Linked DNA regions of Homo sapiens: regions 2, 3 and 4 are each linked to region 1. Evidence: fine-mapped expression QTL. A gene starts in region 1. Each other region holds a variant in brackets. All regions are shown on one strand. Distances are from middle to middle.

Region 1 (7,732 bases):
ACAGATTTCTATTCATGTTAGAGCTGGAAGGGACTGAGAAAACCAGCTCCCTTGAGCTGCTATGGGGAAAGTGAGGCTCAGAGGGAAAGGTTTTGCCCAGGGTGTCACAGCAAATTTGTGCCCAAGACACCCTGGGTCCTAGGCTTCCTTACGTCTAACCAGCATCGTCAGTGCTGCCACACTCGGCTGCCCCTCCACTGCCTCCAGAACAAAGGCCAGGCTCGAACGTGTCACCACATGAGCAGGGGTCAGAGAAGGCTGTGCTGAGCTCAGGTCCAGTCCAAGGGAGATGTTGGAGATGGAAGGGGCCAGAACATTTAGCATGGACTGGGGCAGGGAAGGCACATTCCAAGCTTCCAAGCAGGTCCCAGGTGGATAGGAATAACAAGACGGGGCTGGGAAATATTTCTTTCTGCTGTGTCCAGAGCAGGGCTGGAGCTGGGGGTCCAGTTTGAACCCAGGAGGTCAAGGCTCCAGTGAGCCATGATCGCAGTACTGCACTCCAGCCTAGGACACAGGGAGACCCTGACTCAAAAAAAAAAAAAAAAAAGAGGCAGGGTAGGGGGAGCATCCCAGTTGATGCAAGAAGAGATGGCATCAGAGGAATGAAAGGAAACACAAGAACAGACCAGGAGATGGCCTCCGCGAGATGATGGGGGTGGTACATCAGAGCACTTGGAGGAGGCTGGGGAAGAGGCCCTTTAGCAAGATGGAGCCCAGCCATGGAGCCTCTATCCCTGGAGCCAAAAGCCAGCAAGGCTGCCTTAGAGGAGCCACCTTAAGAGCCACTGAGTGAGTCTCCTGGAAAGACAAGAGAGTATGCTTCTGCAGCAGAGCCACAGCACTGTGACTGTCAACAGACACAGGGACAGTCGCAGCTGCCCTGGGGGTGGGCCTGGGCCAGGGCAGGCAGGGCAGGGGCCTCTTTCCAGCTCAACCTCCTATGGAAAGGAGAGCTGAAGGTGGGGAATGAGATGGGGGGTCCATGGTTTATTGACACCTGCCATATCCTTGGCTGGTCCCTGCCACATGGAGCAGACATGCTGACTCACGCACAGTGGTTTCCTGTTGTGCCTCCCGTGGTGTCCGGCTCACCCAGGACCAACTAGGGTGAGGTGAGGGAGACACTTGCCCCCATGCAAAACTTAAGGAGGCGCCAAAAAACTCGGCAATCAAGATGAAAATAGGCCAGGCACAGTGGCTCATGCCTATAATCCCAGCACTTTGGGAGGCTGAGGCAGGAGGATCGCTTGAACCCAGGAGGTCAAGGCTGCAGTGAGCCATGATCGCAGTACTGCACTCCAACCTGGGTGACACAGTGAGACCCTGTCTCAAAAAAAAAAAAAAGCATCTTGAGTAGCTGGGATTACAGGTGGGTGCCACTACACCTGGCTATTTTTTGTATTTTTAGTAGAGATGGAATTTCACCACGTCAGCTAGGCTGGTCTTGAACTCCTGGCCTCAAGTGATCTCCCTTTCTCAGCCTCCGAAAGTGCTGGGATGATAGGCATGAGCCACTGTACCCAGCCCCAAAAACGTTTTTTAAAGAATGGGTCTTGCTCTTTCACCCAGGCTGGAGTGTGGTGCTGTGATCACGACTCACTGCAATCTTGACCTCCTGGGCTCAAGTGATCCTCCCGCCTCAGCCTCTTGAGTAGCTGGGACCTCAGGTATGTGCCACCATGCCTGACTACCTTTTTTCTTTTTTTTTTTTTCTTCTTTTTTTTCTTTTTTTTTTTTCTTTTTTTTTGTAGAGATGGGGTCTCCCTATGTTGCTCAGGCTGGTCTCGAACTCCTGGGCTCCAGCGATCCTCCCACCTCAGCCTCCCAATGTGCTGGGATTAGAAGCATGAGCTGGCAACATCAGAATTTGTAAAGAAAAGATTGCTGGCTGGGCGCGGTAGCTCACGCCTGTAATCCCAGCACTTTGGGAGGCCGAGGTGGGTGGATCACGAAGTCAGGAGATTGAGACCATCCTGGCCAACACGGTGAAACCCTGTCTGTAATAAAAATACAAAAAAAGTTAGCCGGGCACGGTGGCGGGCGCCTGTAGTCCCAGCTACTCGGGAGGCTGAGGCAGGAGAATGGCGTGAACCTGGGAGGCGGAGCTTGCAGTGAGCCGAGATGGCGCCACTGCACTCCAGCCTGGGCGACAGAGCAAGACTCCATCTCAAAAAAAAAAAAAAAAAAGATAGCTGCACCTTGCCATACTGAGGCCTGAGGCAAAAGGAGAAATCAGTAACACTGAGCCTACCTTTACTTAAATTTTTGACATGTTATTCTAAATGGATTTTAGGCAGCATTATTTTTGATTTTTAAAATATATTGCATTAAAACGTGAAAAACATCCACCTCAATGATTGAATTGCCGGCACTCCCTTAAGTTTTGTGCTGAGGGTGCATCACTTGCCTTGCCCTAATGTTGGCCCAGGGCTTACAAATGACTCAAAGGTGAAGCTCCAGAAAAGTGAGAGAGAGCACATAGGTGGAGTTCCAGGGAGAAAGGGCGTGTGCCCTTTCGGCCTGGCTTTTCCCTCATCATGGTGGGAGCTGTGGTTGGTAGTGGTTGAGAGGAACTGACTCTGTTCTTGATCCTAGCAACTTGTGACATGCACGCCAGGAATGTCATGAGAGGAGCTGTAATAAGCTATCCGAAGTGATCGTCCCTTGAACGAGAGCCACTGCAGCCAAATTAGTGTGGATGAAGGGCACAGGGGACGGGCACTTCTCGATCTGGGGGAGGAGGGAGGAAAAAAATGATTACCCATAGGTTTTAGGCTTTAATTGATTTGTATTTTTCCAGGCTGCTAAAGAAGATTGAATCATGGTAGGAAAAGCGCCTAGGGCTTAAAATAAATGAGGAGAAAGGCAAGTCATTTCAGAAATGTCCAGGAAGCAAAACAAACCTCTCCAGTGCAAATGGCAGGCATGGCTGTTGTGTTCTTTGCTCAGGGGGAGGCAGCTTCCTTTTCTTCCCCAGCTATCTTTACAGTTGGGTTTGACAAGCCTACCAAGGTGTACACACTTTGAGGAAGCGGTTTGGAGGGGAAGAGGCAACAGTGCTGGCTTTTACGTTGGGAGGGCATGTCTCTGGGCTGATGGCTGGTAGAAAAGGGCTTTAGCTGGAGCCTGGATGCAGAGTTCATGCCCTGGCTCTGCCCAATCTAACCAGTGGCCCTAGCCAAGATTTCCCCCTTTTCTGGGCCTCAGTTTATCCATCTGTCAAATGAGAGAGTTTGGATTAGCCTCTTCTTCAAGAGGCCTTCTGGTTCTAAGGCTGTATGATCAACAACTGATGAGAAAAGAAGCCCAGAAAGGGGAAGTGACTCACCCAAAGTTACCCAGCCAACCACTCCTCATTGTTCTAATCCTCCAACTTCTCATCTGTAAAATGGGAATGAAGGTGCCTATTTCACAGGATTGTTGGAACGATTAAATGAGATACTACTACTAATAGTAGCCCCATATATTGTGTGCTTACTGCATGCCAATTACTCTCCAATACATTAGCTCCTGAAATCCTTCAGCAGTTCCCTCTTCACAGGGCAGGAAAGTGAGGCACGGAGCAAGCAGAGAGTTTGCCAAGCTCACACAGTAAGAAGCGGAGCCAGAACTTGAAGCTGGGGCTGTCTGCATTGACTGTGCCATTTTCCCTCTCCATAAGGTACAGAGACAACAGAATTTTGCCGAGAGCACAAAGAGTTCAACAAACTCTTACAGCTCCTACGATTAACGGCAACAGACAAGAGCTAGAGATCCCAATTCAGTGTTGCGACTAATAAAATATCAAGCTGCCCCGTACCACTGGGAATTCATACGACTTAAAAAGCTCCGTCTCCAGCGCGAACCTTCCCCTCGCCCCCACCCCGAGACAGCTGTGCAGGCCCCTCCATCCTCCGGACCCCTCCATCTTTCCATCCTCCACCCCAGCTTCCAGTTTCTGACCCAGAGGCCGGGGTGGGGTCCGAGTGGGCCCACCCACACTCATCCCTGTTTACCCTTGCTTGTCCTAGAGCGCTCTTCGCTCCACGGAGCACCCAGAGAAGTTGGAGTGACTCCGTGAGTGTCGGTGCCCCGGAGGGTGGGGAGGCCCGTTCCAGGACTTGGGAGGCGAGGGTGGGTGGGGACGTCGGGCGAGAAGGGGCGGGGCCGCGGGCGTGATTGTTACCGCCGGTGCCATAGCAATCGGGTCACTTGGCGGCTTGGCCAGAGCCGGGGAGCTGGGAGGGGTCTACCGGGGCTCGACTCTAGGAGTTGGGCTGAGGATTTCCACCCGATCCTCGAACCTCCGGCCCATCTCATGGACGCCCCTCCCCCTTCAAACACCCTCCCCCACATTTATTCCCGCGTCTGTTTTAAAGATGGGTAAACTGAGGCACAGGGAGCCGGGCCGGGGAGCACTGACAGAACCAGAAGCAGGTTCTGCCTCCCGTCCCCTCGGAGGGCCGACTTGCCCCTTCTGGGTTTCGTCGGGGGTCTCAGATACGAGGAGGCCCAGCTGGAAGCCACCTGAGGGTGTCCCCCGCTAAGATGCGCAAATGGGAAAAGCGAGGCCGGGGTTGGGGAAAGAACTTGCCCGAGCCGCAGAGCGCGTCAGCCGGGGAGGTCGGGGCGGGGGCGACCCGCGCGACCGAGGATCGGGTATCTGGGCCCGGCGCGGAGCCTGCAGGGCGGGGCCGCGGCGCGTGCTGATGACGCAGTCGGCGCGGCGGCCCTAGCGACGCGGTTACTAGGGAGCGGCGAGCCGAGACGGCTACATGGACGCCACTATCGCCCCGCACCGTATCCCCCCCGAGATGCCCCAGTACGGGGAGGAGAACCACATCTTCGAGTTGATGCAGGTGACCGGACACCCCTGCCCGTCGCGACGCTGGCGGCGGCTCGGGAGCCTCCACTGCGACGTCGGGTGCGCGGCCGGGACCCGCAGCTGGGGCCGAGTCGCGCGCCCACGAAGCAGCCCAACTCGGGATGTACGATTCGTGTGTCGCCGTGACCCCGAGGGGGCCCTCGAGCTGGGGACGCTCCTGGTCCTGCCCGGGTTTGCCTCAGGCGGACCCAGGGGGAGGAAGGGGGCCACTCGAGCCGGGATTTGGTCCTGGCTGTGCCGCCAGCGGGCCTTATGGTCTGGAACCAGTCCTTTCCTTTTCTCGGTTTCCCCACCTGTGAAATGCCAGGTTGCAAGAGGTGGTCTCCCAGGGGCTCTCCCGGCGCTGACAATTACCATCTGTCGAATTTGTGGGGAGCCTCTCGGCCCAGGTTTCTGAGGTGGGCATTGTCCGAGTTCAAGCTGGCATCTCCATCCTCAGAGAGGGCCGCCTCTGGGACAGCAGCATCTCCCACCTTGGTCCCTCCTCCTCAGGGCCAGACGTCCCCGGCAGCTCCGAAGCTCTCATTCTGGCTCCAGGCCTGACTGGGCCCCCAGCTCACCGTGTGACTTTGGGCGAGGCCCCGTCCCCGCCAGGGCCCCAGTTTTCCCTTTTGCACGTGGTGGAGGTCAAGGCTTTCAGGAGCTGGAGGGGAAGAACTCTCAGCCACTCAAAGGTTCTGAGAGGCAAGGGGAAGCTGGAGCTCAGTTTTCAGATCATTTGTCTGCTTCCCAGGGTACACCCCATCCCCAGGGGCATGGCATGGAGGGCATAGTGGTGTCTGTGGTCATTTGAGGTTCTGCCCTGCACACTAGACAGCTGAGCCCAGACGAAGAAACCCGTGTCTGCACCTCCATCAAACACATTTCCCTCGGAAAGTGTTAACTGATAGAGGGAGAGCAAGAGATTCCTAAAACTGCTTGAGTGGCCAATCACAAATCAAATAGCTAGCTGGGTTAGAAGTCAGCAGGTCAGGGCAGGATGGGGGATCATCTGGAGCCCTGTTGTCTGCTCTAGAGAACCTGGTGTGTTTTCCACATTGATTGTTGGAGGAATTGCCCAGGAAAGCTTTTATTGATTTTGAAACAGGGTCTTGCACTGCTGCCCAGGCTGGAGTGCAGTGATACAATCATGGCTTACTGCAGCCTTGAACTCCTGGGCTCAAGCAATCCTTCTGCCTTAGTCCCTCCAGAGTAGCCGAGACTACAGGTGCAGGCCACCATACCTGGCTAATGTTTTTTTTTTAATTTTAGTACAGACGAGGTCTTGCTATGTTGCCCGGACTGGTCTTGAACTCCTGGGCTCAAACAGTCCTTCTGCCTCGGCCTCCCAACAAGAAAGCTTTCAGTCCAGTATTTCCAGTCCTTAGTCATCTGTGGATTCCCTCCATGTTTTTGACCATTTCCATTTTTTATACTTTTGATTTTAAAATAATGTTAGATTCACAGGAAGTTAAAAAATAGTATGGATTTCTGGTCTCCCCTCCCACATTGCCCCCGTGATAACATCTAACATAACTGTAGCACATTGTCAAAACCAGGAAACTGGCATTGGTACAATAGGATTACCTGAACTGTAGGCCTTGTTTGGATTTCCTCCATTTTTACCTGCATTGATGTTTTTGTTGTGCATACAGTTCTGTGCAGTTGTATCACATGTACAGATTTGCATAACCGCTACTGCACCTCCATTTAAACTAATCACTTGTTTAAATCAACTCACCTTTTAAAAAATTAAATAGCCGCTTTTGCCTCATCCTAAGTGATATCCTTGAAATTATTGATTTGATGTACTTATATTTCTAATACACGTTAAATACACAATGATTTAAACATGAAATGTAAAATATTTATGTGTGAACCATCTAAAATCATCTCATTCCATCATCGCACCAGTGACATACAAACATGAATTCACTCCAGCTGTGCTACTGAACAGGCAGAGAAGCTGAGGCCCAGAGAAGGGAAGGGACTTGCTGATGAGATACAGTGGGGCTGGAACCAAGACTTCTCATGGCTCGGTGCTCTTTCCCTGCCCCACACTCCCTTCACTCCAAGAGGGCTACAGCCCCTCCCTCCTTGTCCCTGGGGCTCAAGGATACCCCTTATTGCAGCAGCACAGCTGCTATGAGCTCCTCCTCATTTCTCTGCCTAGGGTTCTGCAACCCCAGAAGCTGCTTTCTCTTGATATGCTTGCCTGATTGGATGAAATGGCCAGAATATCCCAGGACTATTTAGAAATCTGGCTGGTAACATTCTGTTCCATTCTGGAGAGACACAGTTAGTGGTGACGGTCATGTTCCCCAGCAAACATCTGCGCTGGGCATCTGCTATGACTGCCAGGTATTGGGGTGCCAAGGGCTCTAGGCAGACAAGGAGGCCCACAGAACCCATGGCCTGCCGGGGGGATGGTGGCCTGGTGAGTAGGGACAGGGTGAGGCGTGGAACAGGGCGATGCCCGCAGGCAGGTGCAGGAGCATCTGACATATTTACGTAGTGCACATACTCAGGAAGGTATGTTCCCATTGAGATCTGAGACTGAGCAGAAGTTAGCCAGGATGAGGACAAGGCAGAAGCTTCCAAGCTGAGGGAACAGCATCTGCTAAGGCTCTGAGGGGAATGGTGATGCTTGAGAACTTGGAGAAGGCTGGTCTGGGAAGCTCAAAGGGCCCCAGGGGAGAGAGCCCTGGACTGCCTGCTCTGAATCAGGGGCGAGACTCCTCCACTTCTGCCTCCCCATAGGTGCCTCCGCAGCAGCACCACGTGGCCCCCCTCATGCCTCTGCTCATGGGGACCCAAGCAGATGCCAGCTGGGGCGGTGGCTGGGTCCCAGGTTGAAGGCATGTTTGGTGGGGTGCAGTGGAGAGA
Region 2 (7,732 bases), 35 kb after region 1:
GTCTCCCAATGTTGCCCAGGCTGATCTTAAACTGGGCTGAAACGATCCTCCTGCTCAGCTTCCTGAGTAGCTGGGATCACAGGCGCGCACCACCATGCCCGGCTAATTTTTGTATTTTTTGTAGAGACAAGGTCTCACCATGTTGCCCAGGCTGGTCTCAAACTCCTGTGCTTAAGTGATCCACATGTCTTGGCCTCCCGAAGTGCTGGGGTTATAGGCATGAGCCACCATGCCTGGCTCTCTTTGATCTTTAAAGCTAAGCTGTTTTCTCTTTTTCATCATGATAGCTACTCATCAAATTTGGTCAAATATAGGGGGGTGGTACTCCTTTGGCTTAATTGTACCTTAGTTGCCCAGGACTGGACCCCCTCAGCAGGGGTGGGGGCTGTCTGTGAAAGCACAGCTGGATATGGTCTTGCCCATCAGGCAGTGTTTCAAATTCAATATGCCAAGAGTTCCTGGAACCAGGACTGTCAGTGTGATGAGCATTCGTTCTAAGCACACAGGAAGGGAGAAACTATGTAGTTCATATCCTCAGGAATAACACGCACCTAAAAAATGTGGCATACTCATGAGCCACCATCACTGCCCCTGCCAAACGAAAGGCCCGGTGGAGATGGCGCCACGGTCTGTCTTAGTCAGCAAAGGCAGCAGGACTTCCCCACGCCTGGTGGTAGAAGACCTGCCTTTCCCTTTTCAGATTTCCTTTGAAGATGCTATGATCCCCAAACCACCTGTGACCCAGGAACTTGAGCAGGAACTGCTGTGTCTGGGCCGCTCTTCCCCCGGCCCGCTCTCCTGGTCAAGAGTGTTTGCTTCAACCAGCTGCCTTAGTGCAGCAGAAGCCGGGAGCTGGCCTGCTGACCACTGGAAGGCAGAAGTCTCTGGGATCCAGGCAGGCAGGAGAGCAGGCAGGCCCAGAGCCTCTGCTCCAGCTCTCTATCTCGGCCCGGGAGAAGCCAGAGACCTGAATGGAGCATGCGTCTGAGCCTGGCATCAGGCACTACGCCCAGCAGCTTCTCCAGCTTCACGGGACCCTACATGGCCAGTGTTACTATTATTGTGCCCATGTTGTAGCTGCAGGGCCTGAGGCACGCCCAGAGCCACACCGGGGGAAGCGGCAGGGCTGGCCAGGGTAGACCAGGCACATGGTGCACAGGGCCAGCGCTCTGACCCAGGGGCTCCAGGGCTGTGCTATGCAGCCCAGGACAGAAGCTCAAAGGCTGGGCAAAGCCTATCTACTCCCTGTCGTGTTTTGTGCCATTCACAGGCCCCCAACGTGTCCCCATGCCACCTGATATGTTCCTCCACTAGAGTCGTGACCAAAAGCCTTGTCATGGTTTGTTGGCCTACCCGGCTCCCCAGTCAGTGTTTCCTAAAAGTACTCATTCATTCATTCATTCATTCATTCATTCATTCATTCATTCATTCATCTATTCTCTCATGCAACAAATCACTTTGCTAAGCACAGGGACCAAAGCAGTGAACAAGAGAGTTAAACGTCTTGCTCTCAAGGAACAGAAGTTCTAGTCATGGAGAGACAGACAATAAACCAGATAAATAAGCAAAGGAGTCACGTCAGTTAGAGGCAGATCTGAACTTCATAGCTGGAAGAGAGGCTTGGCATGGGGCCAAGGCATCTGTGGGCCCCTCTGCCCCATCCACCCCACACATCCATTGCAGAAGGCCCAGGGTGGGTGTCTGGATACCACTGAGCAACCCTCAAAGTCTCTCTCCTTTCCAACCTCAAAACATTTGAAACAGTACTATTTCGTGTAAGTAATTTTTACAAGTTACAGCATTCCAATGAAAATGTTTCTGGTGGGTAAGCATTCTGGATTCTAGGTGGAAATCTAGAATCCAGAGATGCAGGGCCTCAGGGTGGGCTGCCAGTGATCGTCTGTGTGTCCCACTGGCTATATACACGCCCTTGAAGCCGCACTGCCCTTCTTTCCCCACTCCAGAATCTAACAAGGCTGCACAGTTTTCACACAGGATCCAGCTGCCTGGACAGATTTGTTTCCGTGATTTTTAAAAAATTTCTACCTCACTGAGTGATAGTTTCTGGGGAAAATATGGTGATTCTCTCTGTGTTTGCAGCTGGATATCCCAAACATGCCCTCAGTGATCTAGAATAGTCATTTTTTTTTTTTTTTTTTGAGATGGAGTTTCGTTCTTGCCCAGGCTGGAGTGCAGTGGCGCGATCTCTGCTCACTGCAACCTCCGCCTCCTAGGTTCAGGCGATTCTCCTGCCTCAGCCTCCTGAGTAGCTGGGATTACAGGCACATGCCACCATGCCCGGCTAATTTTTATATTTTTAGTAGAGACCATGTGGGCCAGGCTGGTCTCAAACTCCTGACTTCCAAGTGATCCCCTCGCCTGGGCCTCCCAAAGTGCTGGGATTACAGGCATGAGCCACTGCACCCGGCCTAGAATAGTCTTTCAAATATGCATTTAACTTCTGTGAATTCTTCCTGAGCTTATTTAAAAGCTTGGTCTGCATAACCTCTTTGCATAGTGCACCTGCAGTGTGGACAGAGTACAGGACCATGCATCCCAAGTCACCATCATAAAAATGATGATGAAGTCTATTGTTAGAAATTAAAATCTCAATTATAATTGACATCGTTATTAGTTACATTACACTATATGTGATTACATTGTATTATAAATAATATATTGACTGAGTATTTATAATGTGTGTTATTATTATGATTATTTTGATGATGGTGGTAGCTGTAGTCTACGCGCCTGGTCTGGCATGTTATCTGCTACATGACATTGCAGGTGCACCTTGCACTATGCAAGAGGCTGTAATTACATTCTGGGTGACTCCCCTTGATTGGGAGTGTAGCAT[T/C]GGCAGCAGGACCGTGTGCTGTGGAGTCCTTACAGCAACCTTGCGGAGGTGGCACTGCTGTCTACCCTATTTCACAGATGCAGAATCCAGGCCTTGAAGAGGTTGTGTATCTTGCTGAAGATCCCACAATTAAATCCCAGAACTGAGATGCAAACACAGTGTTGTACTATTGGCCACTGTTCTTGTTTCAAAGGTTGCATCTCAGGAAGGCACAGAGCGTGTTACTCTGGTGAGAGCTTCACTTCCTTAGGCCTCAGTTTTTCCATCTATAAAACCATGGGGTTGGACTTGAGCATGGAAATCCCTTCTAGTCTTGAGCATGGAAATCCCTTCTAGTCTTATAGTTCTGTGATTCTGATCATGTCCACGCTGTTGTTACCTGCAGAGTAAAGAAATATCTCCTTCAATTTGTTTTAAACTTTCTTCTAACCTTTAAGGGGCATCCATTGCCTTTTCATCTCTTCCCGCTGGAGACAGGATTTCAAGAGTAAGAGGTTAGACTTCTAATTATGTGCTTTGGTTGTTCAAAAACAAAACAAACCCTCATCCAAAATAAACAGGCTTTCTTGCTTTTAGGGAGAAAAATGACACATATGCATATTCATTTATATGGTAATTATTATTATTTAGCTACACAGGGACTAGAATTGGTAATTTAGAGCACAGAAAGAATGCAGGGAATAGTGTTCAGGGAAAAATAACGCAATCATAACCCATCAGGATTCTGTAGTTAATGCAGGGGGGTCGTTTCTTTTTCTTTTTTCTTTTTTTTTTTTTTTTTTTGGTCTAATGCAGTCTCTTTGAAGAATTTTTTTTTGAAGTGACCATCAAATGCATTAGAGAAAGAAAAATTAGCACTCTGTATTGGAACGATCAAAAGGAGTTGGCTCTACCTGTTGGATACCCATTAGCCATTGTTAGGGACAATCAAGAGAATGTGCCCGAATCCTCAGACTACCCCTGTAGGGCAAAGAAAAGCCAAGACATAAGACAGTAAGTTCTGGAAACTTGGGGGGAAAGGCTCAGTACCAAAGAGATTCTAAATTTTACCTTGACCATAGTCACCATTTGTGCTCCATTTTATTTAAATTGCTAAGAATCCCTTTCCTTTATTTGGAACCTGATCCATCTCCCCACAGCTACCCTGGTTTCTTCCCAACTCTTTCTTCACATTGCTGCTGGAAGGATGGCTTTTTAAAGAATGAATGAATTTATTTCATTACCATGATATATTCATTCCTATGGTTCCAAAGGCACCAAAGTCCCCCCTCACTCCTGTTCCTTAGCCACCCAGCTTCCTTCCCTGGAGGCAACTGATGTTCACACTTTCTTGAAAGTGCACCCTTCTGAGGATGACTTTAAACATAGAGAAACATTTGTTATTTTAAAATAAATGTGGTTGTGACCCTCCACTGCTTCCAGGAGCCCTGTGTGTCCTGGGCCTGCCTGCGGTTCAGCTTCATCCCTGGACTTCTCTCATCTACCCACTCAGTACCCGCCACCTTTCTCCAGGTCAACCTGCACCCACCCTGCTCAGGCCTTTGTGGGCAGCTGCCAGACCCTAATTGCATTAGGCCATTCTTGCAATGCATAAAGAAATACCTGAGACTGAGTAATTTATAAAGAAATGAGGTTTAATTGGCTCATGGTTCCGCAGGCTATAAGAGAAGCATGGTGCTGGCATCTGCTCTGCTTCTGGGAAGGCCTTAGGAAGTTTACCATCACGGCAGAAGGTGAAGGGGGAGCAGGCACATCATGTGGCCAGAGCAGGAGCAAGAGAGAGACAGTGGGAGGGGGAGGCGCCACACACTTTTAACCAGATCTCTTGAAAACTCACTATTGTGAAGACAGCACCAAACCATGAGGGACCCGCCCCCATGATCCAAACACCTCCCACCAGGCTCCACCTCTAGCAATGGGGATTACATTTTAATGTGAGATTTGGGTGGGGACACATATCCAAACTATATCACTAAGCAACTCTCAGTGATTTCCCACCCCCTTGTGTCCATGCCTATGTAATCCCCTCCCCTTGAGTGGGGGCAGGACCAGCTGAATGTGGCAAAGGTGAGGGGATGTCACTCCTGTGCTACATTATGTTATGTAAGAATGTGCCTTAGCAGACCAGAGAGAGATCCTCCTTGCTGGCATGATGAAGTATGCAGCTATGTTGGAGAAGCCCACATGGCTGGTCTCTAGGAACTGCAGGGGCCTCCAGCCCCTAGCAAGCGAGAAACCGGAGCCCTCAGTCATGTGGCAGCAAGGAAATGGATTCTGTCAACAATCCAGATGAGCTGGGAAGAGGGTTCTCCCTCAGTCAAGCCTCCAGATGGGAACACAGCCTGGTCAACACCTTGACTGCAGCCTTTGAGACTGAGCAGAGGACCCAGCTGAGCTGTGCTCAGACTCCTTGAAAACCATGTGATAATAACTGTATTGTCTACAGTCACTAAGATTGTTATGCAGCAGTGGAAAAGGAATACACAGTGCTCTTAACCCCACCCCTTAGCTAGAAAACTGCTCTCATTCCTCAGCCTCAGCTTCAAGTCACTTCTTCAGGGAGGCCTCCCCTGGCCTTGCCCAGCCCCAGATGAGGCCGACCTGCCTGTTACACATGCTCACAGCATTCTGCTCTCCAACTCTGCACTGTCATAGTTAGGAGTAGGAATGCAAGATCTTTCATGTGATACCTGGCAGAGACTCCATGCTGGGTAAATATTTATAGAATGAATGAATGAATGAATGAATGAATGAACCAGTCAATAATGAATCAATCAATGCCATTTGGATAATTCCCCAGTTCTGTACCACCGTGGCAGTGAAATCTTATCCCAACATGCACATGGCCCAAGGAGGCAAAGGTGTTTAAAATCCAGCAGCCCTATCCAGTCACATCCGGATGCCCTAATAATGGTTTCAACACTAGGAACATACTTGTCTTCAGGCTTCTTTGGGGAGATTGTTTTGGCCAGTGTGCTAGCTTTGTTTTCTGTGAATTTTGGATCTGTTTAGCGACTTCTTCCTTGTATTCTAAAATTATTCCCATCATTAGTGCTTTCAAGTTTCCCATTTGGCCTTGGACTCCTACACCTTGAGAAAGTTCAAGCACTGCACCCTAAGGGTGGAGGTCCCCCCTTGGGACCCCGGGTTCAGGTTTTTGAGAACCAGTCTTCCAATCTGATCTCCTATGCCAGGAGATTTTCTGTCTCCTCCTCCTCTATTCCTCTAATCAACTGTAACAAGAATCAAGCGCCAGGGTGCTTGATTTTAAAGCATTAAATAAATGTGTAACATAAAAGTGATCACACCTGGTGGATGAATCCCAGTTTGTCTTATCAATGTCTTTTAAAAAGCCATCTACAGAAATCATCCCACAAAAACCTCTTATGAAAAGGGAAACTGAGGCCCAGATGGAGGAAGGAATTTGGTTGACGTCCCACAGGCCAGGTCAGTGTGGCATTTTACAGGCCACCACGCAGAGGCTCCTGGCTACCTGACTGGCAGGTCAGGCTTCAGCTGGACTCGGCAGGTTTGTGCCAGGCCTTCTGACAAAGGCATTTTTATGTCACCAGCACCAGACATTTGGAATATCACAGACTGGAAAATATCTGGCAAAGAAAAAAAGAAATGTTTTCATGTATGGATGCTACCCCCACGCCGCTGCAGGGGGCAAAGGAAAGACTTGTGCCCAATTATGACGGCTCGTCATGTGCGGAGAATTTTATTATTCATCAAAAGGCAGAGGCCTTCACGCACCGGGAATGTGATTCTTATGGGCTCCACACGTGGCTCGGGTTCACATCTGCTGACCTGAGCTGACCCTTGAATATCTGGGCTGGCAGACAGCAGCGAGGGACACTCAGACAGGGACTGGTGTGGACAGCCTGCTCGGGCTGCAGTGCTTTTCTATGTAGAGCGCCCTGTAATTCACAGGCAGGCAGCATGGCCTTAGGTGCTGCGGCGCATGCTCTGAAGTAACAGCTGTCTCACTGTCTGATTAAAATGTGACGATCCAAGCATAGCACTTAGCACTGTGCCCAGCCCGGAGGTCCACTTAGAGTTGATGCTTTTTACATGCTGGATGACTTGGGTGAAGGCCATTTGAGGATCCCTTATGAGTAGAAGTCTGCTACTTCTTCATACCTGGGCTTTGTGTTAGAAAACAGTCCTGGACACTTTCTGGGTGGGTTTATGATCTACCAGCAACATCATGGTGTACTTTTTTTTTGGCGCGATCTCGGCTCACTGCAACCTCCGCCTCCTGGGTTCAAGTGATTCTCCCACCTCAGCCTCCCAAGTAGCTGGGATTGCAGGCGTGTGCCACCACAACTGACTAATTTTTGTATTTTTAGTAGAGACAGGATTTCACCATGTTAGCCAGGCTGGTCTCGATCTCCTGACTTCAGGTGATCCACCTGCCTCAGCCTCCCAGATTCCTGGGATTACAGGCATGAGCCACTGTGCCTGGCCTGTGGTGCACTTTTGAAACCACCACTCAAGTGAGTTCTATTATATCCCCATACCTGGATGAATGAGAGTGAGCAGTCTTTTCAGTGTAGTGCCTGAGGAAAAAAATCAGTGAAATTTCCGAGCCAGCTGCAGACTGCCTTCCTCATGCCTGTTCACTTGCCTTGTGTGTGTGTGTGTGTGTGTGTGTGTGTGTGTGTGTGTGTGAGTGTCCACTTGGGATTGAGTCCCACCACTCTGGAGGTTAGGAATGGTTCAAAATGTTGCCAAACGCGAGCGTAATGCAAGAAGCCAAGCACGTGAGATGCTCGGTTCACTCCTTTGGAGATGGAGCTGGGCTGTGAGGGAAGGGACCTTCAGTGTGACTGCAGCAGGAATTTGCTTTCTTGATGCTTGCTTTGGTTTGAA
Region 3 (7,732 bases), 53 kb after region 1:
CCAAACAGTGTGTACAGTGTGGTTCCCCTCCCCACAACCCCCAGCCACCGGGAAAAAAGGTATCTGCACTTGCTGCTTGGAAGGAGATATACCAGAATGTTGACAGTGGCTTGTTTGGGTCTGAGGTGTTACCAGTGACTCTTATTATTATTTCAGCTTTTCAATATTTTCCACACAGTGTACAATGATTGTATATTACTTTCACAATTGGATTTAAAGAGTTAGTAAAGGCCAGGCACAGTGGCTCACGCCAGTAATCCCAGCACTAGGGAGGCTGAGGCAGGAGGATTGCTCGAGCCCAGGAGTTCAAGACCAGCCTAGGCAACGTAGCAAGACTCTATCTCTATAAATAAATAGTAAAAATAAACCTCTAAACCAGTTCCCTAGCTGTACCAAGAGGGGGCTGATGGGTGAGGAATTTCAATCCTGTAACAAGTTAGCCGCAGAGTAGAAACCGGAATCATCGTCCAGGGTTTTTTTTTTTAAGAAAAATGGGGTGTTCCTGCAGATATATGGGGCAGAAAATGAAAACAAAAGTGGGGTTTTGTTTTCACCCTGGTCTCAGGAATCTCTCAGAAACTGTCTTTAGGAAATTATCCAAAATGTGGAAAGCGCTAGATGCACAAAGATGTTCATCGAGGTATTATCTATGATAGTGAACACTGCCCGCAGTTGAAATGTTCATTTGTGGACATAGTTAAGTGGCTGTGTACATTCTCTTGGTGGGACATTGCACAGCCGTTGATAATGTGGACAATGAGGAGCTGTGCAGATATGAAGAGATGCTTGTGGTCGCTATTGTGTGGTAGAAAAAAATCAAGATGTAGGCCAGGCACAGTTGCTCACGCCTGTAATCCCAGCACTTTGGGAGGCCAAGGTGGGCAGATCACCTGAGGTCAAGAGTTTGAGACCAGCCTGGCTAACATGGTGAAACTCTGTTTCTACTAAAAATACAAAAAATTAGCCGGGTGTGGTGGCACATGCTTATAATCCCAGCTACTTGGGAGGCTGAGGCAGGAGAATTGCTTGAACCCAGGAGGCGGAGGTTGCAGTGTGCCGAGATTGTGCCATTGCACTCCAGATTGGGCAACGAGAGTGAAACTCCATCTCAAAAAAAAAAAAAAATCAAGATGTAAAATATATATGTTATGATTATAATCACCAAGATATGATTCGGAAGGGAATATAATAATATATTACAAAGTAGTTTTTAAAGAAGGGTGAGGTAGCTATCAGAAACATTTTTTTTGTCTTAAAAGTTCTAGTCTTTCTATAAAGCTATTATATTCCTTTTAAAATAATTCCAAAAAATCTAAAACTCAAAACAGATGAGCACCTCTCTGAATCTTCTGTCTAGGGCTGGATTCTGGATGGCATCCCTGAGACGCGTGAGCAGGCTCTGAGGATCCAGACCCTGGGGATCACACCCAGACACGTCAGTGAGTAGCTCCCAAGGGTCCCCCACCTGCCAGAGCTGCAGCCCCAAGGGGTGGCCAGTGAGCGCCCCGCTCATGCTGCCTGCTCCTGACCTCAGCCCAGGCACCGTCTGAGACCCAGCAAGGAAGAGGACAGCACAACTGAATTTTTCACAGAGCTAAATATATTCAGGGCTGGTTCTTAAGAAAAGTGGGGTTTCGTTTTCAGCCTGGCGATTCCTTGTCTCAGGAAGGAAATGCATATTCTATGCATAGCATAGAATGCTGTGCAAGCATTTAGTGCGCACAGAGATGCCCATTGTGGCGTTATCTGTGACGAGGGAAATTGTTAACAGGCAGAACTTTCCGTCATGGGCCGTGCTCTGTCCCAACGTTACACTCTTTGTGTTTGGGTGCGAGAAGACCTTTCTCTTAGGAATTCACGGGGATGGGAGATGATTGTTGTTTTAATGTCATTATACAGAAAAGCAAAAAACGTAAAGCAAGTATTGGTCTGTGATATTCAAATGTGTGGCACCCGCTGCCCGACATGCCTGGTTTTGCTCCTTTTCTTCTCTGCCCAGTTGTGCTGAGTGCTCCAGACACGGTCCTGATCGAGAGAAACTTGGGGAAGAGAATCGACCCTCAAACTGGAGGTATGGCTACGGCCACCCCCACCCAGCCCCATGGGGTTTCAGAGTCCATGGTGATGACAGCCCGTCTACCATTTCCTGACCTCGCATTCTGCTCTGGGCACCCACAGAGGGACACGAGGAAGGCTGCCACAGGCTGGGCTCTGAGCTGGAAGACACTGGCAAGGGTACATTCTGGTAGATGAGGAAATGGAGGCCTGTTTAGGCTAAAGGAGGAGACTTTCTTGTGGCAGAACCAGAATAGAGTGTGGGGGGTCATGCCAGGCACCTGGGCTTGGGGCCCACACAGGAGCCAGGGGACATGTCTGCCTCTCCCTGGGACAAATTATGTGCCCCCTTGACACCCCTTATTCTTTGGTATTTATACAGGAGAGAGAGGCATGAGCATTACCTGGGAGAATTGGCAGGTGTTGCAGGGGACGGGGCCCTTGAACTGGGCCTTGAAGACCAGGCAGTTCAGCAAGGGGCTGGCGGGAGGGTGGGGGGAGACGGGACTGCCCTTGATCTTCCGGGCCTCACGCTGTGGTGGCAGATAGAGCTGGGTTTGTGGATCCCTAACTCTGTCCCTTTCTGGCTGTAGACATGGGATACCTGAGACTCAGTTTTCTTATCTGTACTTGAGGATGAAAATACCAACCTAATGGGTGATGGGATGGCTGTGAAGATGAAATGGGAGTCTGCAGGTGCCTATCAGAGTGGCTGGCACAGAGTAAGTGCTCAGAAGTTCACGGCAGCCCTTGCCCTGGGTCCTGTTCTTGTATTGTAACAAGAATAATAGTTAAGAGCAGGCTCAGAGTAGCTGGAAGTGCTGGTGTTGAGCAACGGTGTCCTGCCGTGGTCAGCCACACCCCAGGAATGTGTAGGGCCTGGCCTCCAGGACAGCAAGCACCCCAGCCAGGCACAGCAGCGCCCACAGGGCCCCTGCATGGCCATTTCTAACTGTGCACCTCTCTCCTTGTAGAGATTTATCACACCACCTTTGACTGGCCACCCGAATCTGAAATCCAGAACCGTCTCATGGTGCCAGAGGACATCTCAGAGCTGGAGACGGCTCAGAAACTGCTGGAGTATCATAGGAACATCGTCAGGGTCATTCCCTCCTACCCCAAAATCCTCAAAGTCATCAGTGCTGACCAGCCATGTGTGGACGTCTTCTACCAGGGTAAACACAAGCAGGCAGCCCCACCCTGGACAGACGGCCAAGGGCGGGGCTCGCTGTGCCTTCTACCACTTTGTCCCTTATTCTGGTAGTGGCCAGTGTCTGGGACATGCCTGGGACCCTGGAAGTCAAGACATAGATGACCCGGGTTCCCTGCCCAGAAATGCATGTGTGCAGAGCCCCTGGGGGTACCCCACTTGGAGACCCTGGGCTAATGTCCCACACTCAGATGTGGTCACATCTCTGGCCCACAGCAGATTTGGTGGTCGTGGGGTCGGGAGGAGGAGAGGCAAGGGATGGGGTGGGAGGGACATGGTAGCAAGAAGTTTGAGCCTGACCTTGAGGGAGAGGAAAGAAAAAATATATAAAGATTAAGACAAAAACAAAACCACCACCACCACACACAACACAATAAAACACACACACACAGCACAGGTGGTATGCTTCATTTAGGATGGAGATACATGGCCCCGCGCCTGGCACTGCGTTGCTGTCCACAGCAATGGCCAATGTTCACAGCAGCTCGGGAGCCACTGCGGGCAGCCTGTGCGAGGTGCGGGGATGGCTGAGCTGAGCAACCTGTTCAAATCTCAGCCCCGACGCAGCCCAGCTGTGCAGCCTCTGGCACTTCTCCTAACTCCTCGGAGCCCTAGTTTTGGCATCGCTAAAATAGGAACAAAACTTGTGCCCTCCTCCCAGGCGTAGGTGAGGATTAAATGGGATTCTCCAAATCACGTGTCCACAGCCACAAGCCCAGTTCTGGCACAGAGAAAAGCCTCAATAAACATCAGTCGTCATAGCTCCTATCATTGTTCAACACCCTGCCCAAAAAGGCAAGGGCAAGGTAGAATAATTCTATCCCCAAACAGCTGTATTATCCTTTTCAAAAGTCTTGCTGAGCTTCAGTCATCTCAAAATGCAGTATCTCAAAATCCAGTCGTCTCAAAATTACCCTTCCAC[A/G]CAGTGTTGGGTAAATGAAGCGTTTACGATGGGAACATCACAGATATTTAAGACACTTGACAGTTTACAAAGTCCTTTTTTTCATATATTCTCTCAAAACTCTCCAAGAAAAGTCCTGTTTTGCCGGGGAAGTGGTTTTGAGCTCCCTCAAGCCCTTCCCTGCTGACTTTCCCAGCACCTTCTCCTGCTGGTAGACTCGGTGCTTAAACCTCATTGCTACACTGAGCTCGGAGATGCGGTGTTTGCCGGCGTGGATTGAACAGCCTCGCCCTCTGAAGGGAGCAATCAGCCAGCGGGTGGGTTAGTAGAAAATGTCGCTACTTAAAGAAGAAATGCCAGGCTTATGATGGCTTATAATTTTCCAGTGATTTTGCATCTCGGAAGGGTCATTAGTAACAAACACTGCACTCTTAAGATAAACAACCACAACATTTATCTTATGCCATGATTCTGAATTTACACATTAATTACTTCCAAATTACTTAATTAAATTTAAAAGTTCATATGATCGTTCATAAAGAATTCATGCCTGGAATTGTAAATAAAAATGTGAGTGTCTGAATATTAATTATTATTAATTAATAATGCAGAGAGATAAATTGAAAATTGGAATGCAGAATTCTCTCTGTGTTGTTTTTCTAATCTCTCTGCAGTGCATCCAGCAACCACACATTTTTAAAAAGAATAATTAGATGTTGAGACTGTCTGGGGGATCATTACTTCTAATTAACTTAGTTATTTACTGTAAATTAAGCATCATTTGTAAGCAGGCTGCTTTGCCTGTAGTATTTGTGCTTTTCAGATGCACGGGATTATGGAAGGTCTGAGAATAAAGAGAGCCTCGCCTGAGTAGCTTCCTTTGGGCTTCTCTCAGTGGAGGAATGGTACCCATGGCAGGTGGTTTGGGAGAGTTGCCCCAGCTCTGCCAAGTCTCAGCCTAATTGGCTCATCTGTAAAATGGGACATGAATAACGCAACCCTCATGGGATTGTTGGGCCAAAGAAAAGAGATGGTGCCTATAGAGTATTTGTCGTAGCAATTAGTACATGCCATTGATGATGCTGATCACAACCTGGAAAAAAGTCCATTCTAACTCATCTCTGCCTTCTAAAAAGAGGGGACTGTGCATCTCTAATGACCCTTCCAATTTAAAAGTCCAGCAAAGATTTGAGAGTTCAGGATTTTCACAATGAACATATCCCAGCGGTTCACAATCGGGGGCAGTTTTGCCCCCACCGCAACCCCGGGGATATTTGGCAATGTCTGTAAAGGTTTTTTGGTTGTCATACCTTGCGGTTGTGCTGCAGGCACCTAGTGGGTAGAGGCCAGGGATGCTTCTCAACATCCTACAGTGCCCAGAATAGCCCCGCAACAAAGAATCTTCTGGCCCCAGATGTCAGTAGTGCTGAGGATGAGGAACCTGCCTGGTTCCTGGGTGGCATGTTCCTGAAGGAGGCACGATGGCCTGGCCCCTCACCCAGCACGGCACCCACCGCAAGGCACATTGGTAAAGGCAGACTGGCAGGAAGGTGTAACGGGGCCACCCCTGGCTGAGTTTGCACAGGACAGTCTGGGGCCTTGGCAGGAGGGGGAAGGTCTCCCTGGGGAAGGATGCCCTGTTTTGAACGCTGGGGTGGGGGCTGGCACAGGTCCGTGCCTCATCTGTGGGCATCTCTCCTGCCTCAGGTGCCCGAAATGCTGCCTTTACAGCCTCATTAGCCTTTTCTCACAGCTCCCTGTTTCTGAGCTCCAGCGGGAGGTGACCTGGTTTGATGTTCAGTAGCTTTGCCCTGTGGCTTCTTGGCATCCGGTGCCCCCCATGGTGCAGGTGGCCTCATTGTTGGAGACACTCACCCCATCTCCTCACTTCTTTGTTCACCAAATGCCAGGGGCACACCACAGGCCAGGGCCATGCAGCTACATCTGGCCACTCCTGTGACCTCTTTGATCACTACCTCTTTGGAGAGTCGCAACAAAGTTGGTGTCACCAGAGTGCAGCTGCACAAACTACTCTCCAATTCGAGTCCTTTAGAAGTCCCTGGGCACTGGGCCCCCATGTGGCTGGATGCGTTTATCAAAGCCTGTGTCTGACATTCAGGTGCACCTAGCAGAAAGCCAGCGTGCACTTCTAGGAGACCAGCCTAGTTCCGGGGCTTCCGGTTGGGAGGCTCAGCCCGATTCAGTAGGAAAAGCCACCAGCCCTATAGAGAGTGCTATCATGTCCTGGGACCAGTCTCCCAACTGCAACACAGCCAGCCCTAGTTCAGCCTGGAAGGAAATGCAGACACCTGCACGTGTTTAGACGCCTGTGTTGAGAGGAATCCAGGGCGGCGCTCCAGGGTGGCTTCTGTGGACTTCACTCCTCGCTCCCTGCCTTGGTGCCCAGGCCTGCCACGTAATTCTTTTCCCTGCCTCTTCGCCAGATGCACAGAGGGCTTCCATGGTGCTGTGAAAGAGAAAAAGAGTTACTGCCGTTAAAAGAGTCAAAGCAGAGGGGCTGCAAGCGGGTTTCCTGTTCTCTAGGACCTGGGTTTATTATCCTCATATCCTCTCTTTCCAGCTCTGACCTATGTCCAAAGCAACCATCGTACTAATGCCCCGTTCACCCCGAGGGTGCTGCTGCTCGGGCCTGTGGGCAGTGGGAAAAGTCTGCAGGCCGCCCTCCTGGCCCAGAAATACAGGCTTGTCAATGGTGAGTGCCCCAGGTGCTGGGCTGCCCAGCTTCGAGAGCCTTTCCCTGCCTCCTGCCCCTCCTCCCCAGCTCTCATTTTATGGGGGGTGGTGTTGGGGGGGAAGGGTCAGTATCACTTCTCTTTCTGGCTCTTTGTTCTTAACCATTTTCTGTTAGTCCATCTTTGCAGGAATTTTCTTCCTCCCGAGGAATATTGCCATAAAAACATTAACCACTAAAAACATGTCCACAGCCCAAAGAGACAGAACATTTTTCAGTCATCGTTTTTTATATCCTTTGGAGCGGGGGGTTTGTCTGTGCTGTACACCAGGGGTGGCTCCCATCTCACCCCTGCCATCTCCCCTGAAGCCTTGGCTCCTGCGTAATAGGAATGTGCTGTTTATTTATTTTCTCCAGTCTCGTTTGGTGCCCCCAACCCAGGTCAGTGTGTTTACAGGCAGACAATTTCTGAACCAGAGGAAGACTTCTCACTCCGCACAGTTTCAATAAATATTTTACCAGGAAGAGAGAAAATATTGAAATCAGCTCTCCAGGTCTTTCCCGGGGTGGTCCCAGGCGGTCTTGGATGCCAGCTTGTGTTCAGGAGGATAAAGGGATGGGAATCAGGAAGAAACTGTAGCAGAGACACACTGCCAGGTTGAAGGGAGTTAAAAGCACTGCCCCTACGCACACCATGCTCCACAAACCTAAGTAGCCTCTACTGTATTTACTAAGGAAACGAGACCTGCACCCCCAAATATATGCATATGCATACAACCCCCCCAAATTATACAGGCATACCATATGAATATAGAGAGGGAATACAAACAAATATATGGACACACACAAATATACCTACAAATATATGTACATT
Region 4 (7,732 bases), 26 kb after region 1:
GTGGGGGAAGGGGGCGGTAGGATAAGGATACAGGGCTATCTCAGCAGATGTTGGAGCCAGGGACTGGATGCTGGCTCGCCTCCTTCTTGCCTCTCTGGTCTCCTTTTTCCTCTGTGCACCATCCATTCATTCATTCATTCTGTCTCTCCCTCTTGCTCTCGATCTTGACTTTGGCTGTCTACCTCGTAGAAACATGGTGACCCCATAACTTTAAAGTGAACATATTCATCCAGTTCCCAGCAGAGGTGCCCCCTCCCTCGTTCTCTCGCTATCTCCCCTTTTTCTTCCCATTCCCCATCCCTGGAAAAGCCATTCTGCAGCTGGGTCTGGTTTCTCTCTTTCCCTTTGTGCTGGTTTCATTCCGTTCCACACCCGTCATGCCCACGAAGTGGCTGCCGCAGCTCCCGCTCTTACATTTTCTCAGCTTCTGAGCTGGTGGAAAGCAGGGGTTCATGCCCCTAATGATTGCACTGATGTCCTGGGCCTGACTTTCACTAGCTGGGACTGGGTCCCAGGCAGCCTCTGAATCAATCACAGTGGCTGGGAGTGGGGTGTGCAGATTGGCTTGGACAAGTCAGGGCCCTCCTCTGGATCTGAGGATGGACTTGAGCGCACCCAGACCATACAGGCAGAAGGGCAGGAGGGTGACTCCTCAAAGGAACTTTGGGAGCCCATGTTACTGTAAGTGGAGTGTATGGAAAATTAAAATAAAAGCCACATTTGCAGTCTCATTACTGATTTCTACTGGTTAGGTGTGTGAGGCCTAAAGAGGTCAAGGCTTTGCCCAGGGTCGCCCAGCTGGCTGTATCGCAGCCGCCAGGAGCAGAGAGCCTGCCCTGGGCAGAGGTGGGAGGTGAGCCCTGATGCCAAGTCCGAGTCTCTGCTCTGCATAAGAAAGGCTGTGCCAGGAGGCCCCCGCCCCCAGCAAGGAACTTTCTGATTGGAATGTATTTCTACTTCCCATGTCCTTTTTCAGAAATGTGGGTGGGTGTAGAGGAGATTTTTAGCCCCTGTTGTGCACTACAAGGAAAGGCACAGGCCAGGCCTCAGCGACTCCCCTGAGAAGAGTTGCTTCCTCCCCAGTCCTTTGCAGAGAAGGGAGAGTGCGGAGTACCCTGGGGAAGCAGCTTCACCTCTCCCAGGCTCAGCTTCCTCCTCTATGAAAAGGGCCAACACTCTGAATCAATCACAGTGGTCAGGAGTGGGGTATGCGGATTGGCTTAGACCAGTCAGGGCCCTCCTCTGGATCTGAGGATAGAGTTGAGCACACCCAGACCATACAGGCAGAAGGGGGCAAGAGGGCGACTCCTCTTTGGGATTCCTCTTTGGGGGCCCGTGTTACTGTAAGTGGAGTGTAGATGGCACAGAGTTGTTACAAAAAGCAAAGAATGGAATGCTTGGCCCAGTGCCTGGCACATAGCACGTGCTCAACAAATGCTAGCCGTCATGATTGCTGCTTGTTGAATGCATCAAGGAATTTGAAGTTTCATTATGGTCGACAGGGCTTCCTATATCCTTGATACCATTTGGTCTGCTGGTCAATATTCAACAACCAGCACTGGGGGCAGGGTGGGGAGTCCTTATTGTAGCCTTTATCATTTCTGTGGTGTAGACACTCCCACCGTGGCCAATTTTGTTACCAACATGAGGTCACTGACTGTGGACTTGGGAAGAGATGGACACACTCGCCTCTGCTGAGTCTTGGAGCCAATCCCCTCCCACCCGCCACTGTCTGGAGTCCAGAGTCAGTAGGACACTGTCCCTTTCCTTGAAGAGCTTTACAACTTCCTGGGGACACAGCCACGTGGGCAGTCCATTAGCGTGTGCGGTGGTTAGTGCAGTGACAGAGTTCTCCATCCAGGATGATGGAGCACGGGAAGTAGCACCAGCCTGGCCTGGGAGGATCCGGCAGGGCTTCCTGCAGGCTGGCACTTGGGGCTGAGGCTCTGAGGGAGCCCTGGAGTTATTCAGGTGGAGGTGGGCGAGGGCATGTTGGGGCTTGGGCACAGGATAAGGTGAGTACATGTGTGAGGGAGGCCCTCAAAGATGCTGGGGGGAGAAGAGAGTTCAAGGAAAGGGTGCAGCGGGTGGAGGAAGGGCGGGGCCCGATGGTGGTCGGTGCTTTCCAGAGGCCAGGGCGTTGGTGAAGGGTGTGTGCTGGTCTGTGTCCTGAGCTGCAGGAAGCAGGTTTGGGCCATCATTCTGTGTGTCCTTTTTCCTTCAGACAGTTCCCAGCGCGCTGCTCGTCCAGCTGATTCAGGAACGCCTGGCTGAAGAGGATTGCATCAAGCAGGTAAGACTCCAGTGAGCTAGGGGTTTCAGTGCCAAGATAAAGGGGAGGGTGAAGGGCGTGTGTTCATCTCCAAGACCAGAGATGACCAGAGGCATAAGAGAAGGTAAGGCAGGCAAACGGGAACTCCGTGAAGGTCAGTCTACAGACATGGATTTTGCTTTTGTCAAAGGAAAAGGAACAGTGTGGAATTCGTTGTATCGGTCAGGGTTCCCGTAGGAAATAGCTGGCCCATCCAGAGGGGTCACAGGAAAGCATTTAATGACAGGACAATCGCAGAAGCATGGGAGGGTAAGGCAACCGACAAGTGATGGTGAGGCGCCAGGGACTGGCATCGGCAGGAGGCAGAATTAGGGGTACCCCAGACTCTCGCCTCCTATCCTTTGATCTCCTGCCAGACCCAGTGAAGTCAAAGGGCAGGAGTCCAGGTGAGCAGTCCACTGAGGCCGGCCTCCTGGGGCACAAGGAGGGTGGAGAGGGCAGGGGAGGGCTCAGGAGGACAGCAGCATAGCACCTGTCTACTGGGCACTGATGGGTGCCACAGGAGGGCTTTGCACACCGATTCATGTGTCCTCACAGGAACCCTATTGGGTCATGTCATTACTTTTCTCTTTTTATTTTATTTTATGTATATATGTATGTATGTGTATATATACGTTTGAGACAGGGTCTTGCTCTGTCACCGAGGCTGGACCCCAGTGGCATGATCACAGCTCACTTAGCCTCAACTTCCCAGGCTCAAGTGATCCTCCTGTCTCAGCCTCCTGAGTAGCTGGGACTACAGGCATGCATCACCACACCCAGCTAATTTTTGTACTTTTTGTAGAGATAGAGTTTCACTATGTTGCCCAGGCTGGTTATCAAACTCCTAGGCTCCTATATTTTTTTCTGAATTTAGAATCCTAGGTTAACAGTTTTTTTCTTTCAGCATTTTACAAATGTTTCACTTACAGTTTTTTCTTTTTTTGTAATTTTTAAGGGGCCATGCTAATATTCTCTGTATTGTTCTAATTTTAGTATATGCGCTTGCCAAAGCTAGCACTCTGTTTACTTTTTTTTTTTTTTTTTTTTTTTTTGAGGCAGAGTCTTGCTCTGTTGCCCAGGCTGGAGTGCAGTGGCGATCACTGCTCACTGCAACCTTGACCTTCTGGGCTCAAGAGATCCTCTCGCCTCAACCTCCCCAGTAGCTGGAACTGCAGGTGTGTGCCACCATGCCCAGCTAATTTTTTGTAGACTGGATCTCCCTCTATTTCTCAGGCTGGTCTCCAACTTCTGGTCTCAAGCAGTCCTCCTGCCTTGGCCTCCCAATGTGTTGAGATTACAGGCATGAGCCGCCACACCCAGCCTCCACTTACTTCTGACCACTGTGGTTTCTATGAAAAATCCACAGTCATTCAAATTCTTTTATAAATAATGCATCATTTTTTTCTCTGACTACTTTCAAGATTTTTTCTTTGTTTTTAGTTTTCTTTTTTCCTTTTCTTTTCTTTTTTTTTTTTTTTGAGGCGGAGTCTCATTCTGTCGCCCAGGTAGGAGTGCAGCGGCATAATCTCGGCTCACTGCAACCTCCACCTCCCAGGTTTGAGCGATTCTCCTGCCTCAGCCTCCTGAGTAGCTGGGATTACAGGCATGCGTCACCATGCCTGGCTTATTTTTGTATTTTTAGTAGAGATAGGGTTTCCCCCTTGTTGGCCAGGCTGATCTTGAACTCCTGACCTCGGGTGATCCACCCGCCTTGGCCTCCCAAAGTGCTGGGATTACAGGTGTGAGCTACCGTGCCCGGCCTATTTTTAGGTTTCACTAGTATAATTATGACATGTCTGGGATGAATTTCTTTGGGCTTATTCTTTTTGGTGTTTGCTGAGCTCCTGAATTTATAGGTTTGTATTTTCCTCCAAACTTGCAAAGTTTTTAGCCTTTATTTCTTCACGTAACTTCCTGCACCCTACTCTCTCTCCTCTCCTTCTGCAACTCCAATAACACAAAGCATTCACCCTTTTGCTGTTGTCCCACAGGTCCCTGAGGCTCCAGTCTTTTTTTTTCTTATCATTTTTTCTTTCTTTCTTTTTTTTTTTTTTTTTTTTTTTTTTGAGACCTAATCTCACTCTGTTGCCCAGGCCAGAGTGCAGTGGCATGATCTCGGCTCACTGCAACCTCTGCCTCCCAAGTTCAAGCAATTCACATGCCTCAGCCTCCCCATTAGCTGGAGTTACAGGCATACACCACCGTGCCTAATTTTTTTTTTTTTTTGAGATGGAGTCTTGCTCTGTCACCCAGGCTGGAGTGCAGTGGTGCGATCTCAGCTCACTGCAACCTCCGCTTCCCAGGTTCAAGCTATTCTCCTGCCTCATCCTCCCGAGTAGCTGGGATTACAGGCACGTGCCACCACACCCGGCTAATTTTTTGTATTTTTTAGTAGAGACGAGGTTTCACTGTGTTAGCCAGGATGGTCTCAATCTCCTGACCTCATGATCCACCCGCCTCGACCTTCCAAAGTGCCGGGATTACTAGCATGAGCCACCGCGCCCGGCCCAATTTTTGTATTTTTAATAGAGTCAGGGTTTCACCATGTTGGCCAGGCTGGACTGGAATTCCTGACTTCAAGTAATCCTCCCGCCTTGGCCTCCCAAAGTGCTGAGATTACAGGCGTGAGCCACCATGCCTGGCCCCTATTGTTTTTACTCTCTATCAGTCACATGTGATAATTTGTATTGAACTATTGTCAGGGTCACTGAATCTTCCCTTGTTTTTTTATTCCACTATTGAGCTTGTCCTGTGAGTTTTTTATCGCATCGGTTCTTTCTGCCTTCTGTGTCTTTGCTGAGACTGTATCTTTC[T/C]GTGTTTTTACCAGTTGGAAGTTTCTTGTAATAGCCGCTTTCGAGTTTTCATCCGCTAATTCCAGTATCTGAGTTACGTGGTGGTGACATCTGTATCTGCTCTCATGTGAGTAGAGATGTTCCTGGTTCTCCCTGCGCTAAGTAATTTTGTATCCTGGACATTTTAAATATTGTTATGAGGCTCTGGGTCTTGTTTAAATCCTATGGCAAATGTCATTATTTTTGTCTTAGCAGATGACTGATTCAGTTGGGTTCAGGTTGCATGTTCCAGCCAGGCTTCTCAGAGTGTGGTTTCCATGTCAGTCCTGTGTTCAGCAACTTTGCAGTGCCGTGCAGTGACCGACCATGCAGCTCTGTGCTATGTGCACATCACCCAGGGGCACCTGGGGACTTGGCAGTGAGCTGGCCACAGTTCATGTCTCAGTGTCTCTGAAATGCCGTTTAGGGTCAGGCCCACACGTGCACAGCTTGGGGGTGAGCCTTTGATCTCATCAAACACTGTGTTTAGTTACTTCCCTGAGCTCCCCTCTCTGTCATCTCCTGATAACTCCTAGTTCCCTGGTGCTCCTCTTTTTGGTATTTTGGCCAGAAAACTGAGGTTATTTATCCTGCTCTGCCACTCACTTCCTGGGACTGCACCCATGACCAGGGTCAAGTGGTGGGAGGACAGAGAAAGGAAGGATTGACAGGGCTTTGCCCTGTTCTCTTGGGACTGGAGAAGGGTCCCCTCTTTCAGTGTTTCAGGCACCTGCAGGCCCCTTTGACACAGCAGTGCCACCACAGTCACCGCAGGACTGCCTGGAGGCAGGAGTGTGAGAAAACAGAGAAAAGAAAAACCCCACAGAGGTATCTCCCCTCCTAGCTCGCTCTTCTCCCATCTGCTTCCCACTTTCAGCCTTCAGGTTGCCTTAAGGCCAGGCCAGGAGATACTGGTTTGGTGGTATTTTGGATTCTAGTCTTTTCCCCCAACTTGCCTACTACTGGGTAACTTTCTGAGTCCTCGAATAGCTGCCCTGTGTGTTTTATGAATGTATTACAGCTACTTTCAGTGGGGTTGACAAGGCGGGTGGCGCACATTTCCTGTCTCCCAGAATCAGAACTTGTGTCTTTTTTTTTTTTTTTTTTAAATGCACCTACAGATTCTCTCTCTTTCTCCATCTGTCTCTCACTTGAAAATGTATTAGGGCCAGGCTGGGCATGGTGGCTCACACCTGTAATCCCAGCACTTTGGGAGGCCAAGGCAGGAGGATTGCTTGAGTCCAGGAGTTCTAGACTAGCCTGGCCAACATGGCAAAACCCCGTCTCTACTAAAAATACAAAAAATTGGCCGGGCGTGGTGGCCCACGCCTGTAATCCCAGTATTTTGGGAAGGCGAGGCGGGCGGATCACCTGAGGTCAGGATTTCGAGACCAGCCTGGCCAACATGGCAAAACCCTGTCTTTACTAAAAATATAAAAATTAGCTGGGCATGGTGGTGGGTGCCTGTAATCCCAGCTACTTGGGAGGCTGAGGCAGGGACAATCACTTGAACCCAGTAGGCAGAGGTTGCAGTGAGCCAACATCACGCCACTGCACTCCAGCCTGGGTGACAGAGTGAGACCCTGTCTCAAAAAAAAAAAAAAAAGTATTAGGGTTGAATGCAGTGGCTCACGCCTGTAATCCCAGCACTTTGGGAGGCTGAGGCAGGAGGCTTCTATCGCAACGACTCAGCTCTGATGTAATACAAAGGCAGCCGTACACATGCCATTGCACTCCAGCCTGGGCTACAGAGCAAGACTCTGTCTCAAAAAAAAAAAAAAAAATTAGCTGGGCATGGTGGTGGGTGCCTGTAATCCCAGCTACTCGGTAGGCTGAGGCAGGGGAATGGCTTGAACCCAGGAGGTGGAAGTTGCAGTGAGCCGACATCACGCCACTGCACTCCAGCCTGGGTGACAGAGTGAGACCCTGTCTCAAAAAAAAAAAAAAAAATGTACTAGGGTTGAATGCAGTGGCTAATGCCTGTAATCCCAGCACTTTGGGAGGCTGAGGCAGGAAGATCACTTAAGTCCAGGAGTTCAAGACCAGCCTGGCCAACATGGTGAAACCCTGTCTCTACTAAACATACAAAAAATTTGCTGGGCATGGTGGCGTGCACCTGTAATCGCAGCTACTCGGGAGGCTGAGGCAGGAGAATCGCTTGAACCTGGAGGAGGAGGTTGCAGTGAGCCGACACGCACCACGGCACTCCAGCCTGAGTGACAGAGCAAGACCCTGTCTCAAAAATATATTGATTGGGAAGCCCCAAACCTGAAGCAGGAATCTTTCCAGCATGCTGGCGAGGGAGTAGCAGTTCTCACGAGCTTGTTCTGCATGGCCCTCAGCCATGGGATCTCCATCACAAACACCCTGCCGGCCGGGCTGCAACACTGGCTCTGAACAGTGTGTTTACATCTGAATTGTCTCAAATTGTTCACTGTGAGTGGATGGTCTTCTGCCCAGGTGTGGGCAGATATCCAGAGCCCAGAGGCTATTCTAAATCGGGGGTGGACACATGTTTTCTGAAAAGGATGGAGAGACACTCGTTGAGGCTTTGCAGGCTATATGGCTTCTGTCACAACGACTCAGC

What was found. PIP is the estimated chance that this variant, and not a neighbour inherited with it, causes the effect.
Region 2: its variant is the best candidate, but not a certain one, in a credible set for the expression of AK8 in nasal epithelium (TOPMed, PIP 0.53).
Region 3: its variant is the best candidate, but not a certain one, in a credible set for the expression of AK8 in cerebellum (GTEx, PIP 0.51).
Region 4: its variant is the best candidate, but not a certain one, in a credible set for the expression of AK8 in nucleus accumbens (GTEx, PIP 0.67).

What each region holds. Positions count from the first base shown.
Region 1 is chr9:132,875,281-132,883,012 of GRCh38, reverse strand. AK8 (adenylate kinase 8) reads left to right here and starts at 4,729. Exons shown (of 13, transcript NM_152572.3): 1 at 4,729-4,841. The coding sequence starts at 4,758. It overlaps SPACA9 (sperm acrosome associated 9), which reads right to left and starts at 4,115. Exons shown (of 4, transcript NM_001316897.2): 1 at 3,999-4,115.
Region 2 is chr9:132,840,206-132,847,937 of GRCh38, reverse strand. The region is part of intron 5 of AK8 (adenylate kinase 8); the gene reads left to right. Among named protein-coding and RNA genes, the nearest start is that of AK8, 34 kb to the left of the region's middle. The variant T/C (reference allele first, on the strand shown) is at 2,858.
Region 3 is chr9:132,822,352-132,830,083 of GRCh38, reverse strand. AK8 (adenylate kinase 8) reads left to right here. Exons shown (of 13, transcript NM_152572.3): 6 at 1,358-1,439; 7 at 2,000-2,071; 8 at 3,030-3,230; 9 at 6,748-6,879. Among named protein-coding and RNA genes, the nearest start is that of AK8, 52 kb to the left of the region's middle. The variant A/G (reference allele first, on the strand shown) is at 4,188.
Region 4 is chr9:132,849,418-132,857,149 of GRCh38, reverse strand. It overlaps AK8 (adenylate kinase 8), which reads left to right. Exons shown (of 13, transcript NM_152572.3): 5 at 2,225-2,293. LOC124902335 (U6 spliceosomal RNA) reads right to left here and starts at 3,332; the gene lies at 3,225-3,332. RefSeq lists enhancers at 387-886, 887-1,388 and a silencer at 2,445-2,636. The variant T/C (reference allele first, on the strand shown) is at 5,128.